Linked DNA regions of Homo sapiens: region 1 is linked to region 2. Evidence: fine-mapped expression QTL. A gene starts in region 2. The other region holds a variant in brackets. All regions are shown on one strand. Distances are between the middles of the regions. Region 1 overlaps NIPAL2 (NIPA like domain containing 2). Region 2 holds the start of NIPAL2 (NIPA like domain containing 2).

Region 1 (8,000 bases), 52 kb after region 2:
TGGCACCTCTCAGCATGCGCACAATGACCTGTTTCATGTCCTTCCTCACCATTTAACTGAGACCCAGGGGACTGGTGACTGACTGTGTGTCTCGTTGCTTGACATTTGCCCTTCCTGGGAGAGCACAGCACGGGGAAATCACAAAATGCAGCCTGCAGAATTGGTTCAAATTTGAATTTTGACAAAACAAGGATAGGATGTTCCGTTCTAGGGTGTTGGAAGAGATAAATACTTGCTTAAAAGATTTCAATTCCTAATGAAGCACGGTGGTTAAACAGTTCATTGCAAGAGACTCATGAATATTCATGCTTGTGAACACTCATAGGTCTATAAGCCTGTCCTTTGGGGATTGAGTTCAGTTATTTGTGCATCTCCAAAGCGTGGGCTTACATTTAATGTTTTCCTTTTTCTGTTTATCCCCATGACTGTGATCTATGCTATGCCTAAACATTTAGAGATGATTAAAAACAATGAAGTTATCAACAATCCAAAGAATTGAAGCCACATGGAATTAAATAGCTTCATGGCAGACTTCTCTCAGTATAAAATTAACTTGTCTATGGGGCGGCAAGGAAGTGGGATATGGAGGGAGATCATTGCAGGGGCAAGGAGGGAGGGAGGGAGAAATAGAATGTGATGGAAGCACCGGTGACATTTTTCAGTTCTATGCCTCTGAGTATATTGATTAAAAGTAACTAGAAAAGAGTGCAAGAACATATCAGCTTTTTCCAAGTTAAATTCGGGCAATACTTTAGACAAAGTAATAAAGGTAAGAAACTAATATTGAATGAGCATCCACTATGCCAGGTATGAGACACATAAACTCATTACCTCAATCATTGCCCAGCTGAATGGAAATGAGTAATAAATAGATTGACTTTGGGATAAATTATATTAAATTAAGCACTTGAAATTTTGTATGGAAAGATAATAGCAGCAAGATCTCCATGGCCCTAGAGTAAGTTCCTAAGAGAAGTAGTCGCACTGTTACTGAGCTAATTTGTATTAAGGTTGGAGAGCTAACTGCACTGAGAAAATGAGGAGAGCATGAGTCTGATAAGTCTTTTCCATCTCTAATTTTCCCCAATATGCTGGTTTTTGCTCAAATCAAAATTCATGATGTGGAATACATGTTGTTTTGTGTATTTCTGTGGTGCTGTTATGAAGCCCTAAACTGAAATGTATCTGTAATCCATTAGACGACGGTCATAGCAGAGCCAGGAAGCCCTGGTGAGGCCTTTTGGAATTCCAAAGAAATCATGTCAAGGAGAAACTTTGGTCTCCAAGATTTTTATTAGAAACAAATGAAAGGAAACATAAACAGACCAATGAGCAAGTGACCCATAGCGTTACACAAACCTAGATGCTGCGAATTCTCTTTGTCCCTTAGAGCAGTGTGCTTACTGCCAGCCTGGATGAGGTCACCGGAACTCTAAAACCTCACAGGATGCCTGTGATAGTGTCACTTCACACGGACATTGATTTTAATGTTCAAGATATGCAGAAAATATCACTTTTCTTAGTGGCTTGATGAGTTATCTGCTTTTGCGTGTTTGTCCAAAAACCAGCCTACATAAAATGTGTGAAATAAAACTCTGAAGTTTTAATCTATGTCTGCTCATATACGCTCAGCAGAAAGCATTCCTGAAGCCTAAACACTTTATTTGAAACATCTTTTCCACTCATCCTTATTTTTTCAGCATGCCACAAGAGTATTTCTAGAGAGGCTGCTAATGATGAAGTAACACACAATTAAATTTGTAATACAGAATTAATCTAGTCAGTGGTAGTATTTTTACTTTTTTGGAGTCTTTTCAACTTTAACATTAACGCATGCCAAGAAAAATGTAGAAAAGAAAGGATTATTGTTCTTAATCCAGGTAAGTTCCCTCGTTTGAAATTATGCAAATTGTCTCTGAACGACAGTTCCTTCATTATCTTCAGTAAATGACAATAGCAATTTTTTTAATCAACATGAATTACTTGACACTTTTCTTCCTGCCAACATGAATGGTAGAACTTTTCCCGCTGTAAGATGACATTTTTCAAACTGACATATCCTCAGATATTCAAATCTTAATTCCATGGAATACATTGTAATTGACATACCTCTTTTCCTAAAGTTCTACAACTAACGGGGAATGATAATTATGTAGTAGTACCTCAATATGGTTAGAGTTGACTCTGCCTGTGAGCACGCTCGATGTGTCCACGTGTTTGGAGCTTGATTGTGACTGACATGAAAGTGTTTTTGTGGTTTGCTTTTTAGCAGTACAATAAAGTTGCCATTATAAGTGGTCAGAAACCACAAGCCAGATATTTACATGTGAGGTTCTGTTTGTAGCATTATTATGTAAATATGTTCTTTTCATGTCATGGGTTATTTTCTTTTTATAAGAGAGAGTTTTCCTTAGTGTTTTATCTTCTATTTTCCTATATTATAAATATACATCCTGGTTTCTCTTTATATCACAGAGATGACGTAATAAATTGAATGTCCAGGAAATGAAAATGGATGAAATTTTTATTTGTAGGCTAGATTAGAGTTCACAAACTTGCCTGTAGACCAGAGTTGGCCCATGTTTTGACTGGCTCAAACAATGCTTTTAAAGAATACTAATTAATTTCCTATGGGTAAAAATTGGACAATAACACACACACAAAACTGAATTTTTGGCTAAAGAATCAGATTTGGTAGTGCTGGATTTGCAGTTGGCTAAGGCTGATTCAGGAGTGCCACCTTTCACTGATCTTGAATAGTTCACCACGGCCCCACAGCCCATCACCACCATGGCCAGCACCCCCCATCACCACAGCCCACCCTCTCATCACCACAGCCCACCCTCTCATCACCACAGCGCACCCCCCTTATCACAGCCCACCCTCTCATCATCACAGCCCACCCCCCTTATCACAGCCTACCCGCTCATCACCACAACCCACCCCCTCATCATTACAGCCTACCCCCATCACCACGCCCACCTCCCTCATCACCACAGCCCACCCCCTCATCATTGCAGACTACCCCTCATCACCACGCCCACCCTCTCATCATTACAGACTACCCCTCATCACCACGCCCACCCTCTCATCATTACAGACTACCCCTCATCACCACGCCCACCCTCTCATCATTACAGACTACCTCTCATCACCACGCCCACCGTCTTCATCACCAGAGCCCATCCCCCTTATTACTGTGGCCCACACCCCCCTCATTTTTTTTTTTGTCTTCAGAGGATTACCTTAAAGGCCCTTATAGGCATTTGAGTTTGTAACCTGTCAACCAAACGTTCTTTTTCTCCCCAGCTGAATCAGATAAGAATATCATATCCATAATCACATTTGAGTAAAGTATAATTAATTGATTGTCTTAGCTTTGGGTTAGATTTGTCTTTAAGAAGTGATAATAAAGGGTAAAAAAACAGAAAGAAATAAACAAAGTGAACAAAATCATTTAAAAATAGCCATGCCCTAAACATTGAAACAGTTATTGAACAGTCTTATGTACCATTAAGCTTTTAATAAAAAATTATTATTTTAGGGGAAGAGAGTTTAAATAAAAAGCACACATATGTCTTAATGTTACAAATTTAAAAAGGGAATGCCCATTTACCTCTTATTCTACAGACACAGGGTTCTAAACTGACATGTAAAAATCTGCCCTTGAGCTAAATTGCTAACAGAGAAGTTTGGTATTTAACTTCTCATTTATTAATCCACATTAGTAGCTATTACAGAAGAACCTCAAACCAAGTATTTACAACTTTTCTGAATACTCATGCATCAGGTTAATTTATGGTTGGCTTTTTCTCTCTTGTGGCCTGCTATGGGTCTTAGAGCATCAAGTAACTCTTCCATAATAAGAGCTGGTCTTGGACCGAGTCTCATAAACTGAAGGATTTCAGAGAGTAGGTGAATGAAGGACAAACCGAGGGTTGATTCCTAAGTAAATCAAGAAGCACGAGGAAGTGCAACACCAAGACACATACCTCGCTCTGGGACTGGCACCCTCCCCCACATCTAGACATGGTTTGGAAGGCACCGGAAACTTGCTTGGCCTTTATTTTATCTATTTTCATCTGGAAACCTGAATCCAAATGCCCAAGTGTACGTTTCCTTATATGAACCTTGAACAGAATGAATCTCCATTTTGATTGCCAACCTAAGTGACACTTAATAGCCAAAAGAACAGATGACTCACCAATAGGAGTCAGTCCACAGTCAGCAGTCAGCAATTGCTGCTGAAAAGCTTCCTTAAAGCATTAGAGCTTCAAGGGCAACTGGATGCATTAAATACATTAGACTGCTCCATGGAGGTACCATTTTGCACCAAAGGAAACACTAGAAGAAGGTTGCATGTCCTTTCCCCTTACGGATAGTATTCCTGCTGTCTTCCTCCGCCCTGCCCCCCATGACTCCTACAGAACCACCCTTTGGGTTTTGGCATGTTATCTTTTCAAACTTTTTTATTTTTTAACGTAATTTTTAAAATTGTTTTAATTGACAAATAATTTTATATGTTTATGGGGTACAGTGTGGTGTTTTGATAGTTGTATATGCTGTAGAAACATTACATCAGGCTAATTAACATATTTATCATCTCATCGACTTCTCATTTTGTATGGTTAAGAATATTTAGGCAAAAGACCGGGCGCGGTGGCTCACTCCTGTAATCGTAGCACTTTGCGAGGCCAAGGCGGGAGGATCACGAGGTTAGGAGCTCAGAACCAGCCTGGCCAATATAGTGAAACCCCATCTCTACTAAAAATACAAAAATTAGCCGGGCATAGTGG[T/C]GGGCTCCTATAGCCCCAGCTACTCAGGAGGCTGAGGCAGGAGAATCGCTCGAACTTGGGAAGCGGAAGTTGCAGTGAGCTGAGATCGCCAATGCACTCCAGCCTGGGTGACAGAGCCAGGCTCAGTTAAAAAAAAAAAAAAAAAAATCTGTCAGGTGCAGTGGCTTTTGCCTGTAATCTCAGCACTTTGGAAGGCCAAAGTAGGAGAATCAATTGAGCCCAGACGTTTGAGACCAGCCTGGGCAACATAGTGAGACTCTGTCTCTACAAAAAAAATTAAAAACTAGCCAGGCGTGTTAGTACACGGTATTGCCTATAGTCCCAGCTCCTTGGGAGGCTGAGGTGGGAGAATCACGTGAGCTCAGGAGGTCGAGGCTGCAGCGAGCCATGGTTGCGCCACTGCACTCCAGCCTGGGCAACAGAAGGAGACCCTGTCTCAAAAAAAAGAACTTTTAAAATCTACTCTTTTAGGAATTTTGAAATATGTATCACTATTAACTGGGTCACCATGCTGTGCAATAGATCGCTAAAACTTATTCCTCCTGTCTAAAGGAAATTTGATAAATTGGTATATTATCAATGGTACATTACCTTTTGCCTTTTATGCCATGGTATACCAATGGTGTATTACCTTTCACCTTTTATTTTTTTAATGCATTATGGCCATTGTGGTCTAGTGCCTGACTCTGGAGTCACTGTGTGACATTGTGTAATAAACTTAAACTCTCCAAGCCTCAGCTTTTTTATCTGTAAAATGAGTATAACAATGCCAACTATCTCATTGAGACGCTGGGAGGATAGAAAGAGTTAATTATTCCGTGTCAAACCCTTAATAAGTAGAATATTCAGCCACCCTTATTGTGTATATATTTTCCTGTCATAATCATTGTATAAATATAATTTTCTACCTCTTTTAACATAATAGCATAAAATTATCAATATCACTGTGTAATTTTCCATAATAATTTCTATTAGCTGCATAATATCCTACTGATTATTGCTGAACGTTTAGATTATTCCAGTTTTCCACTATGAAAAATAATTTTGCAATTGACACCTTTAGGCTTGAGACTCTCCATTTTTTGGAATACTTCCTTAGGACAGATTCACAGATGCAGAATTACTAGATCAAAGAATTTGAATAGTTTGATGCTGTTGATAGATATTGTAAAATCACTCATCAGAAAGTTTCTATCAATTTACAGTGACTCTAGCAATGTGAGGGAGTACTGACTTTACTTCTTCCTTGTCAATACTCAGCCTTAAAATTGTGTGTGGAAAAGAGCACCTGGCTCTAAATTATCTTTATTACTGATGATTTGGACTTTCCCCTATGTGTTTGTCTACTCTCATTTGTGAATTACTTGTGTTCCTGCCCATTCATTTATCCACTGGGGTTGTGTTTCTTTGCATACTGGTGGGTATACCTGTTCACACATATCATCACTAAGTAAAGAAAAGATGCTGTGTCAAATCTTGGTGTTTTCAGTTATACCTACACACATAGACCATGGTCATCTTGGAAAACAGAGGACCTGTCTCTTTTCCCTCAAATACTCAAAGCCACCTGGGAAAACACAAAGAGCACAGCTTGGTCCATGCACTCTTATTTCTAGTAACTGACTGTTTATAAAATGTTCAAGCAAGGAGAATAATTAGAAAGGACGAAGCACAAATGCTTCCTTTCACCGGTTGAGGAAATAAAACCGAGGCTAGCACATTAACATGTGCTGTATTCCATAGCTGGTTCTGGACAGAGCAACACTCAAACCCAGGTGTTCTACATCCCAGCCCAGCACCCGGCCACCTAGGCAGTATTGTGGAACTTCAGTTCTTCAACAGGACCTTCTTCTTTTCACCTGGAGTGATACTCTGAGTAACAAAACAGTAGGGAAGTCTTTTTGGCTAATTCCTGTCCATATTCCACTTCCCAGCATTCTCATGAATCAGCCTTAGCCTTTCCAATAGAGCATTTCCTTAAGAATAATGAAGTAAGGATGAGTTGAAGACAGCTCAGCTCAGATTAGACCCCCTTTTGCAAATTTTATATATCGGCCCCAAGATAAGATGATTCTTGGACAACTGCAATAGCACCATCCGCCATCACTTGTTGATAAGCTTGTAGGGAAAGGGTGTCACATTTTATAAACATCTCCCACCTGCCAAGAATAACAGTTCACTGACTATGGGCAGTGAGTTTTGGCTGGGAAAATAGCCTGTCTGAATCAGGGACATTTTATTAACCTGCTAGGACTATTGTGTGCTTAGGAGAGCCCGCATCTTCCTCCTGGTTTTTCTTACATCAGTTTTCCCCCCGAAAAAGTACTTTTTAATAAAGCACCAAGATCAGTGAGCACTCTCTGTAGACCCATGTCTTCTGAAGGCCAGAGGGAAAAGCATTCATGAGTCTCTGCCCAAACATGTCTCAAACCAAAAATGCACACACAATTGATTGCTTAAGTAAATATCCAGTCATAACTATGGTTTAACCATAACTAGTACAAATCTGTTTAATTTACAGCTATGTTCTGTTTTCATGCTTTTTAAGTGATTAATCTTGAAATGCTCTATTTTTGAATATTAAATTTTACTATAGGAATAAAAGTATAATAGATTTTCCCCTTTTCTAGGTGTTCATTAGGCAATGGTTATTGTGATAGCAACTACTAGAAAGTGTTGGGCTTGATAGACCTCTGATTACAAACATATATGCGAGTACTTCAGTTGATGTTTTTCTCATTTGAAAAACTTACTACTCTACTTAAAAGTCATGTTATTAGCTGTTGCTCAATACTGCCTTTTTGCTCAACACAGCTCTCATTTTAGCATATTTGCAAGATAAATGAGTTGAAAGTAAATGTATCTTAATAGAATGTTCTTTTTTTCTTGCCTTTTTTACTAGATAAATAAAACTAAAAAATCTTGTTCTATTACCTAAAAATTTTGTAGAAAATCTCAAGTTCTCTTAAAACAGAAAAAAAATGTTATTGGCTGAATGTGGAAGTGCATTAGACTTCTATTATCTTTCAGAAAGGAAGAGTAGCATATTTATGTTTCATAAAATTCTGACAATTGTTTTATAGCAATTGATATAATTTGATACAAGTAGTGTATTTCCAGTTTTTTGTTACCAATCATGTCCTTTTTGCTTTTAGCAATGAAATTATTTCCCATATAACATTTTCCCCTCCTCCTTCTGAAAGT
Region 2 (9,019 bases):
TCCTTCCTTCCTTCCTCTCTCTCTTTTTCTTTCTTTCTTTTTCAGACAGGGTGTCACTCTGTACCCCAGGACAGAATGCAGTGGAGCCATCACGGCTCACTGTACCTATACAGATCTCACCATGTTGCCCAGGCTCGTCTTGAACTCCTGAGCTCAAATGATCAGCTCGCCTCCGCTTCCTAAAATGCTGGGATTACAGGCATGAGCCACAGCACCTGGTCTATCCTTTGCTTTTCATTAGGTCTTCCCACATATAGATAGATGTACTTCTAAACAATATATTGTCTAATTTTGCATGCTTTTGAATAATACTGAATATAATCTTCTATGGATTTGCTATTATTATGTTTGTGGGATTCATCCATGTTGCTGTGGCTGTTAGGTGGTTGTCATTCAGGTAATTTCATTGCTGTGTTCCATTATATAAATGTATCAAAATTCATTTGCCCACTATTCCTGCTAATGGACATTTGAGCTGCTTCCAGTTTTTTGTTTGTTTGTTTGTTTGTTTGTTTGTTTGTTTTGCTGTTACAAAGAGTGCTGTTATTCTTATACATCTCTTCTGCTGTCCAGGTACGGAAGTTTCTCTGGGGTATGTACATAAGAGTGAAATTCACATGTACATCTTCATCTTTACCAAATACTGTCAAACTCTTTCCAGTGTCAATAGCATCAGCACTAAATAAGAGTTTCTTTTGCTCCACATCCTTATCAACACTTGGTATGCAAATTAAAAATTTTTTTTTTTGCCAACCAGCAGGTGTAAAATGGTTCTCATTGGAGATATTATTTTGTATTTTTCTGATTACTGGTGAAATGGAAGTATTTTATATGTTTATTAGCCATTTATAGTTTTTCTTATGAAGACCACCTGTTTATATTTTTGCCCATTTTTCTACCAGTTGTCTGACTTTTTCTTATTGACCTGAAGGAGTTATTTATATATTCTGGATGTGAATCCTTGGTCAGTCACATGTATGAGAAATAAAAGTTCTGAGTTTGACTTTTGTTTTGTTTTGTTTTGTTTTGTTTTTTGTGGCAGGGTCTCACTCTATTGCCCAGGCTGGAGTGTAGTAGCATGATCACAGCTCAGGGCAGCCTTGACCTCCCGGGCTCAGGTGATCCTCCTGCCTCAGCCTCCCCAAGTAGCTGAGACTACAGGCATGCGCCACCATGCCTGGCTAGTATTTTTGTATTAAGATTCTCAGTTTCTGACTTATCTTTTTACACTTTATGGTGCCTATTGATGTATAAAAGTTCTTAGTTTGGCTGGGCATGGTGGCTCATGCCTGTAAACCCGCACTTTGGGAGGCCAAGTAGGCAGATTGCTTGAGCCCAGGAGTTTGAGACCAGCCTGGGCAACATGGTGAAACCCCATTTCTACAAAAAAACCCAAAAATTAGCTGGGCGTCATGGTGTGAGCCTGTAGTCCCAGCTACTCATGAGGCTGAGGTGGGAGGATGGATTGAGCCTGGGAGATCAAGACTTCGTCCTGCCAAAATTGTACCACTGCACTCCAGCCTGGGCAACAGAGCAAGACCCTGTCTCGAAAAAAAAAAAAGTTCTTAGTTTTATTGTAATTGCACTTATGAATCTTTGTCTATGTGGATTGTATTTTTTAATTTGTTTAAGGGATGCTTCCCTATTGTAAGGTTATAGCCGGCACCTATTGAGTACTTTCTATGTTTCGGGTACTCCTTATCATCTCCCTTTTACAGGTGATAAAGACAAGGCTCAGAGAAATTGAGCAACTAGATGAGGTCATACAGCAAATAAGCAGTGGAGTCAGGATTTGAACCCAGACAGTCTGCCTTGTGTTTGCACTTTAACAATTGCCAAACTGTTGTTTATAGAGATGATGTCATATGTTATTCTATAAGATTCAAAGTTTCGCCTCTCTCATCAAAGTCTCTAATCTGGACTTGGCTTATGATGTGAGATACCTGAATTAATCCATACCCTTCTCTACTTTGGCCCCTTAAAAGCTCCTAACTTGAGTAATGCTTATTGTAACACAACTAGTATTGACTGAATTGTGCTAGAGATGAATTTTAAAAAAAACATTTTATTCATGGGAACAATCAACAATGCGGACTACTAGAGAGGGGAGGGAAGGAGGAGGGCACAGGTGGAAAAACTACCTACTGGTACTATGCTCACTACTTGGTTGCAAGAAACCCATGTAACAAACCTGCACATGTACCCCTGTATCTAAAAAAAAAGTTGAGAGAAAAAAAAAAGCTGTTTTGTTAATGCTGCCAGTGACTGATCCCAGGCAAGGTAGGCAAAATCTAACCCTGCTCTCTAAGTAAATGATTTGGCACCAGAGTAGAGTTCTTCAAATTAACTGAGGAAGACAGACTTCCACGTTTCAGCCCTTTTTTTAGCTTTTGGCATCCCGTAAAGTGAACAGGATATCCCCTGAAGAAATCCCACGAGAGGTAGAGGCCGTCACAAAGTACGGAACAATCTCCACAGCTCTGCCTACACTGCTGGGACCAAAATAGTTCACATGGCATTCCTGCCGCCTCCTTGTGAACTGTGTGGGAAGGAACGCTGGTCACGAATTCTTCGTTTCAACCACCCACACACACTAGGACAGCAGCAACAGCAGTGACATCTTGGAATCTAGAGAACACCACGTGGTAGGCTGTACATCAAATCTTCTCTGCATCATGTACCATCTTCCTCCAAAATTAGAGGTTTTAAACAAATGTAAAGAAATTGAAAATGTTTTTTTAAATTAAGAAATAAAATGGGAACAAGTTGAGTATAGCAGAGTATCAACTAAAGGGAAAAAAATCAAGCTTTTAAAGAATTAAACTTAGTTTTATTCAGAAGTCTCACTGAATTGTTTGAGGCCAGGAGTTCTAGACCAGCCTGGGAAACATAATGAGACCCCATCTCTACAAAAAATTAAAAAAAAAAAAAAATTGTCTGGGCGTGGTGACTCACGCCTGTAATCCCAGCACTTTGGGAGGCTGAGGTGGGTGGATCATGAGGTCAGGAGATCGAGACCATCCTGGCTAACACGATGAAACCCAGACTCTACTAAAAATACAAAAAATTAGCTGGGCGTGGTGGCGGGCATCTGTAGTCCCAGCTACTCAGGAGGCTGAGGCAGGAGAATGGCGTGAACTCGGGAGGCGGAGCTTGCAGTGAGCCGAGATTGTGCCACTGCACTCCAGCCTGGGTGACAGAGCAAGACTCTGTCTCAAAAAAAAAAAAAGTGTGGACTTCATTATGGCAATAGGGAGGCTTCAAGGCATTTTAAACCAGAAAGTAACACAATCCATTTAGTATTTTGCTTGTTAGCAACTGTACAACTACTTACAATCTGGCTGATAGAAAAATACTAGAGTGGTTGTACCAGGGTTGACTGGTTCCCCTCCCCCATAACCCCATGGCATTCCCACTCATCCTGGTTGGTAGAGCTTACCTCTCACTAGGTTGGAAATACCCAAGAATCACTTTCCCAGCCTCCCTTGCTGGTAGAACATGGGCATGTGACCCAGTCCCAGCCAATGGGATCTGAGGTGAAAGGATGCCAGGAGGATTCTGGAAAAGGCTTTCCTCCCTCAATGGACAAGACCAGTACCTCAGGGATAGCAGAGCAGAAAGGTGGAAGTGACGACATAATAGAACCACATAGAGACACATTCCTCTGGAGATAGCAGATAATTATTGTTTAAGCCACTTTTATTTGGATACTCTGTTACTTGCACCCTAAAGCATGTGAAGAGAAAGAAGCATTAATGAAGTCACCAATATCAATGAATGTGATGTTATAGAAAACTTATCAGACAAGGCATGGCAGCTCACACCTGTAATCCCACCACTTTGGGAGGCCGAGGTGGGACAACTGTTTGAGGCCAGGAGTTCTAGACCAGCCTAGGAAAAATTGCGAGACCCTGTCCCTACAAAAAAATAGAAAAATATTAGCCAGGGCCAGGTGTGGTGGCTCACACCTGTAATCCCAGCACTTTGGGAGGCCAAGACAGGGGGATCACTGGAGGTTAGGAGCTTGAGGCCAGCCTGACCAACACCGTGAAACCCTGTCTCTACTAAAAATACAAAAATTAGCCGGGCTTGGTGGTGTGCACGTGTAGTCCCAGCTACTCAGGAGGCTGAGGCAGGAGCATTGTTTGAACCCAGGAGGCAGAGGTTGCAGTGAGCTGAGATTGTGCCACTGCACTGCAGCCTGGGCAAGAGAGAGAGACTCTATCTAAAAAAAAAAAAAATTAGCTGGGCATGGTGGCATGCACCTGTATGTAGTCCCAGGTGGGAGGATCACTTGGGCCCAGGAATATGAGGCTAAAGTGAGTCAAGATCACACCACTGCACTCCAGCCTGGGCAACAGAGCAAGACCCTGTCTCAAAAAATAAAATAAAATGTAATATAACAAATAGAGACCTTTTTCCTTCAGATATTTATTTGAAGTAAATCAGCCTCTTAAAATTGGGAATAGTTACCTACAATTGTTAGCTGTTCACTGAACATCTCGAGTGCTTAAGCAAGAAACTACACAATTTCTGAGACGACATGTCTTGTTTTTTCTGTATGTGAAATGACTTTTTCTCACTCTTTTCTCTCATTTGCACATTTCCCCTAAGAAACACTGAAAACTGTCCCTGCTCCCTTCTAGGCAGCAATTCTCTTTTCTTGAAGGTCTCTCTTTCATGAACTCATGGAAGTCAAAGCACATTATCTAAGAAAAACCTCAGCATTGTGTAAACAAAAGAAGGCAACTATCAGCCTTCAGGCAACAGTATAGAATCATGGTTTTTTTAAAGTGAGAAATACCCTACAGATCATTTGTGGTCACACATTAGAATTTGAATACAGGTAAAACCAGAACATCTCGTTAGAGTTCTTAAGATTAATAACAACATTTATCTTTCATCCTAAATTCATATATACAGTAGCTGGCAACTTTTCAGCAACTCCACCTGATCCCATCTGAAGCAAACCCAATCCAGTCATCGCACACTGGGGTCCTATGGCTACCACATTCCTCATTCAAGGAATATTTACTAAGGATCTATCAAGCACTGGCACTGAGATTCAATCGCTCGGATCTTTTTTTCTCATATTGCTTACAATATTTCTGGGAACTCATGACTTTTTCATATGCAATCAATTTTTAAAATATCGGTGAGAAACACTACATATGTGATAGAGGACTGGAATTGCCAGGTAGAGATGGGAGATGATAGCTGCTTTGGGTTAGTCAGTGTCTCCTCCTCTTCCATTGACTTGGACAAATGTTTACAACGGAGATGATCTGATTCTGGCCCCGACAGGCGCGGGGACCCGTTGCGGACGGCCGCGGGGATTGCCCCCTTGGGCAGTGCGGCCCCGAGGATGCAGACACTGGCCCAGCGGAAGGAGGGCGCGGTGCGAGCTGGACGGCCCCGGGAGGCCGCAGACCGCCGGGCTCCCCGAGGACACCTCGCACCGGAGGAGGAGAGGAGGCAGCGCCCGGCCAGGCTGGGAGCACCTACGGCCGCGCGGGGGCGGGAGCCAGGTGGCCTCGGCGCGCCCGCCTCGCCCGGGCACCGAGCAGGAAGTGGCTGCGGCGCGGCCTCCTCGCGGTGCAACAGGGCGGGGAGGCGGCCGCAGCCCGAGCCGGAGCCCGAGCGCCGGGAGCGAGACCTCATGGCAGCGGTGGCGCCCGCGGGCCCCGGGGACTCCGCCTCGGCCGCCCTGGACGAGCTGTCACTGAATTTCACGTACGGGGCACCAGGCGCCGGCAACGGCTCCCTCTCGGGCGACTGGTACCGCAGGAACCAGGTAAGGGCCGCCCCGCAGCCACCGCAGCCCGGTGGGGACGCGGCCAGGGCGGCTGGCTCCGGGCGCCTCTGCGCCTCGGCCGCTTTCCTGCCAGCTCTCAGGAAGACACCCGGCCTCTCCGAGTGGGAAGAGGTGACATGCAATGTTTCCCGCATTGACCTAAGTCCGCCTCATCCGGAAGCGCGGGGGTCCGCCCAGTCTTCCTCTCCCGGGCACCCGGCACTGGGAGTGGGCGCCCAGGTCTTCGGCCTTGACCTCAGCCACCCGTTCCTGGGACCTCCGGGTCCCGATCCCGCCTCCCCAGCCTGCGTCCGCCCTCTTCTCCCGGAAGGAATCTAGGAGTGTGGGGGCAATTCACTCATTTTCACCCCAGGATCCTTTTACAGTTAAAAGAAAAGAAAAAAGTGACACCCTGTTATCAGAAGCAGAAAACTCATTAAGGGCAGCCTAATGTCACCTCGCGCAGATGCCCTGCGTGTGTCCCTGGTATCTCAACACAGCTCTTCCATTTCCGTGCGAGGAACACATTTTCTCAGGTTGCATTTGCAGGACTCTCATTCTTTCCCACCGGCCCTTTGGGAAAACTTTGTTAACTTAAACAACGCCAGTTTACACTGGAAATATACATTTAACAAAATCAAAGGGACTTGGAGCCGCCCATTTATTTTTGGCTTGGTTTAAGATGAGGAAGTGTTCTGGCCAGCCCTTCCTCTAGCAGCGTTCATATTGCAACTAAGTTTTATCACGGTGGATTCCAGGCTTCCTCCTGTTTTCATTAAATGTGTTACTTTGTTCTTGTTCTTTAACAAAACCATGGATACTTTTATTTTTGCAACAATATAATCAGAAAATATTTGTTGCTGTTGTCCTAAATCGGAGAGTTTAACCAATTATCAAAGATCTGGATTCCTTTTATGCCTGAAGTGTTCTAAATATTAATTTCTGAATGCAGAAGAGAATATATTTGTATAAAGAATAAGTAAGATAAATAAGCATGTTCACTTTATTAGTTTTCAAGAGGGGAGAGTATTGCTTTAAGTCATTTCATCATAAAAGATATAAAAATAGGAAAAATGAGGGTACTCAGAGCCTCTTGATCAATGTTTGTAATCCAACCCCATTTCTCCTTTCTTCTACCCACAGGAATTACAAAGAAAAGCATCATTTTTATGGGAACTTGAATCTATCTATTATATTATTCTTTTATTAGAAGTATTCCCAATATAAGTTTAAGAATGAGTTATCTATCCCCTCTTGATTAAAAAAAAAAAAAAAATAGAGGGTTAGCAGATGTGATCATCCAAAAACAGGACATTGTTTTCACAGTGGAAACCTCTGTAGTCATTAGTTTTCTTTGACATTTCCTGGAATTCTTGATTGTCTTGGCTGTCTGATATCCAAACACAGATTATCATGTGACATAAATGTGAGGCAAATAAATACTGTTTGCAAGGCTTAATTTGCCTTTGACAGTGTGTATTTGTACAGGTTAGAAAGGATGTATCCAGAATGTGCTAATTGAAATTACTGAGCTGACATCTAAACTTTGCTGGTTTGAGATAAAACTGTATCAAGTTTTGCCATTATTGTGCAAATTTAGGCCCTCTTATAAGATGGTGGTATTTTATCTTTTCAGTAATTGCATTTGTGTTAAGCAAAAGTAAAAATTAATTTTTAAAAAGTTTACTCGAGAAGCATTTTATTGAGTGCCTCTGGTGTTGTCCAGGCCAGTAAAAATAAAATTGAGTCTAATTTTTCTTGTCTTTTTTGACACTGAATAGAAATGGCTGAAAATGGGTGTGGATACAGAAAAACAAAGTGTGAGATATAAATGTGTCACTCCCACAATCAAAATGAATGTTGGTTGCTAACTAGCCACAGCTTAATGATGCTTATTTGCTTGCCTCCATTGGTTTTATCACAACTAAAATATTTGCACAGTGTGTGTTGGCTGATAGCCTAGTTCTCTGTCCCTTTATCCCTTCCAAAGTGATTATCATCAAATCTGATCAATTAACCTTACTACATAGAAAAAGACAAACTTCCCTGGAATGCTTTCATGTAATACATGTTTAACAGTGGCCACTTAGAATCAATGTTGTCTAAGACAAAGGTGTGAGTGCTTCTGGAGGAAGAAACCTCAAAGCAACTCAAAAGTAGTAGTTCAGTGGGGGAAGATGTCTTAGGAGCAGGGAAGTGAAGTCTTTGCCCTTTGCACTACTCAGACGCTGTGTGCTTGGTGAAAAGCCTGGCCTATAGAAGTATAGAAGTGATGGAGTTGTGACAGGTAAACAAAAGGCACTTTATGTTTGATCCACAAGTTTTCAGTAGAGAAGGATAATGTTCCCAAGATGTTTATTGAGCTCCATGCTATGTACAAAGCACTACAGGGATATTCAATATAGTGCAAAACCCAAACTCTTCCTTCTGTGAATATTATTAGGTGTTTGGGAAAATGAGCTATGTAGGTAATGCCAAAACAAGGCAGTATGTTGTAAGTGTCATGTGAGTGATATAAAGTCCCATGGAAATTCAGAGCAAAGGGGCATTTGGCTGGGCCATCAGGGATGTTTTGTGGAGAGGTGGTATTTGAGCTGGATGGTTAATGATGGACAGGGTTTCATTGATAGGCATGCACAGTGTAGGGCACTGCAGGAAAGGAAAAAGCTTAGGGACCCAGAAGCAGCCCTCATGGCCAGGACTGGTGCCTTTCTGAATATTTTCCTTCCTAGAGTACAATTCAACTATCATTCTGGTTGCGGTGGAAGATGGAGACTGACTATAAGGTAGAAATATGGTTTGGGGTCTTGGATATAGTCATGGGTTGCTTTGAAGGACTGGTGACAAAGTTTGGACTTTACCTTGCAGACAGTGGGGAGCCATTGAAGATTTTTTTGAGCAGGAGTGCAGGAATCAAAGCAAATTAAATTTAAAAAAATTTAAATTAAGGCTAGCAGGATTCAGTTTTCAAACTGGCCAGCTGTGGACTAAATCCAGCCTACAGATACATCTTGTTTGACCAGCAGAGAGGCTTCAAAGTCTTCAATACATTGCCAACACTTAAAAATGAGAAGATTAAATATAAAATTTCAAGTTTCCATCATCTTTTTAAATATTAGGAGTTCCAGCAATGCCGGGCCTTTTCCCCCGCATGATCACTGAGCTGGATCTCATGTTTAAAGCAAGCTGTGCTCCCCGCTGCAGCTCTCTTGGTTCTCTTTTCTT

The links.
Region 1: its variant is fine-mapped to the expression of NIPAL2 in whole blood (INTERVAL, PIP 0.98).

Annotation. Positions count from the first base shown.
Region 1 is chr8:98,239,432-98,247,431 of GRCh38, reverse strand. The region is part of intron 3 of NIPAL2 (NIPA like domain containing 2); the gene reads left to right. All of the region lies in intron 2 of NIPAL2-AS1 (NIPAL2 antisense RNA 1), which reads right to left. Among named protein-coding and RNA genes, the nearest start is that of NIPAL2, 51 kb to the left of the region's middle. The variant T/C (reference allele first, on the strand shown) is at 4,797.
Region 2 is chr8:98,290,778-98,299,796 of GRCh38, reverse strand. NIPAL2 (NIPA like domain containing 2) reads left to right here and starts at 5,562. Exons shown (of 11, transcript NM_001321635.2): 1 at 5,562-5,794. The coding sequence starts at 5,660. The region is part of intron 5 of LOC105375659 (a long non-coding RNA gene); the gene reads right to left. RefSeq lists a silencer at 5,323-6,042.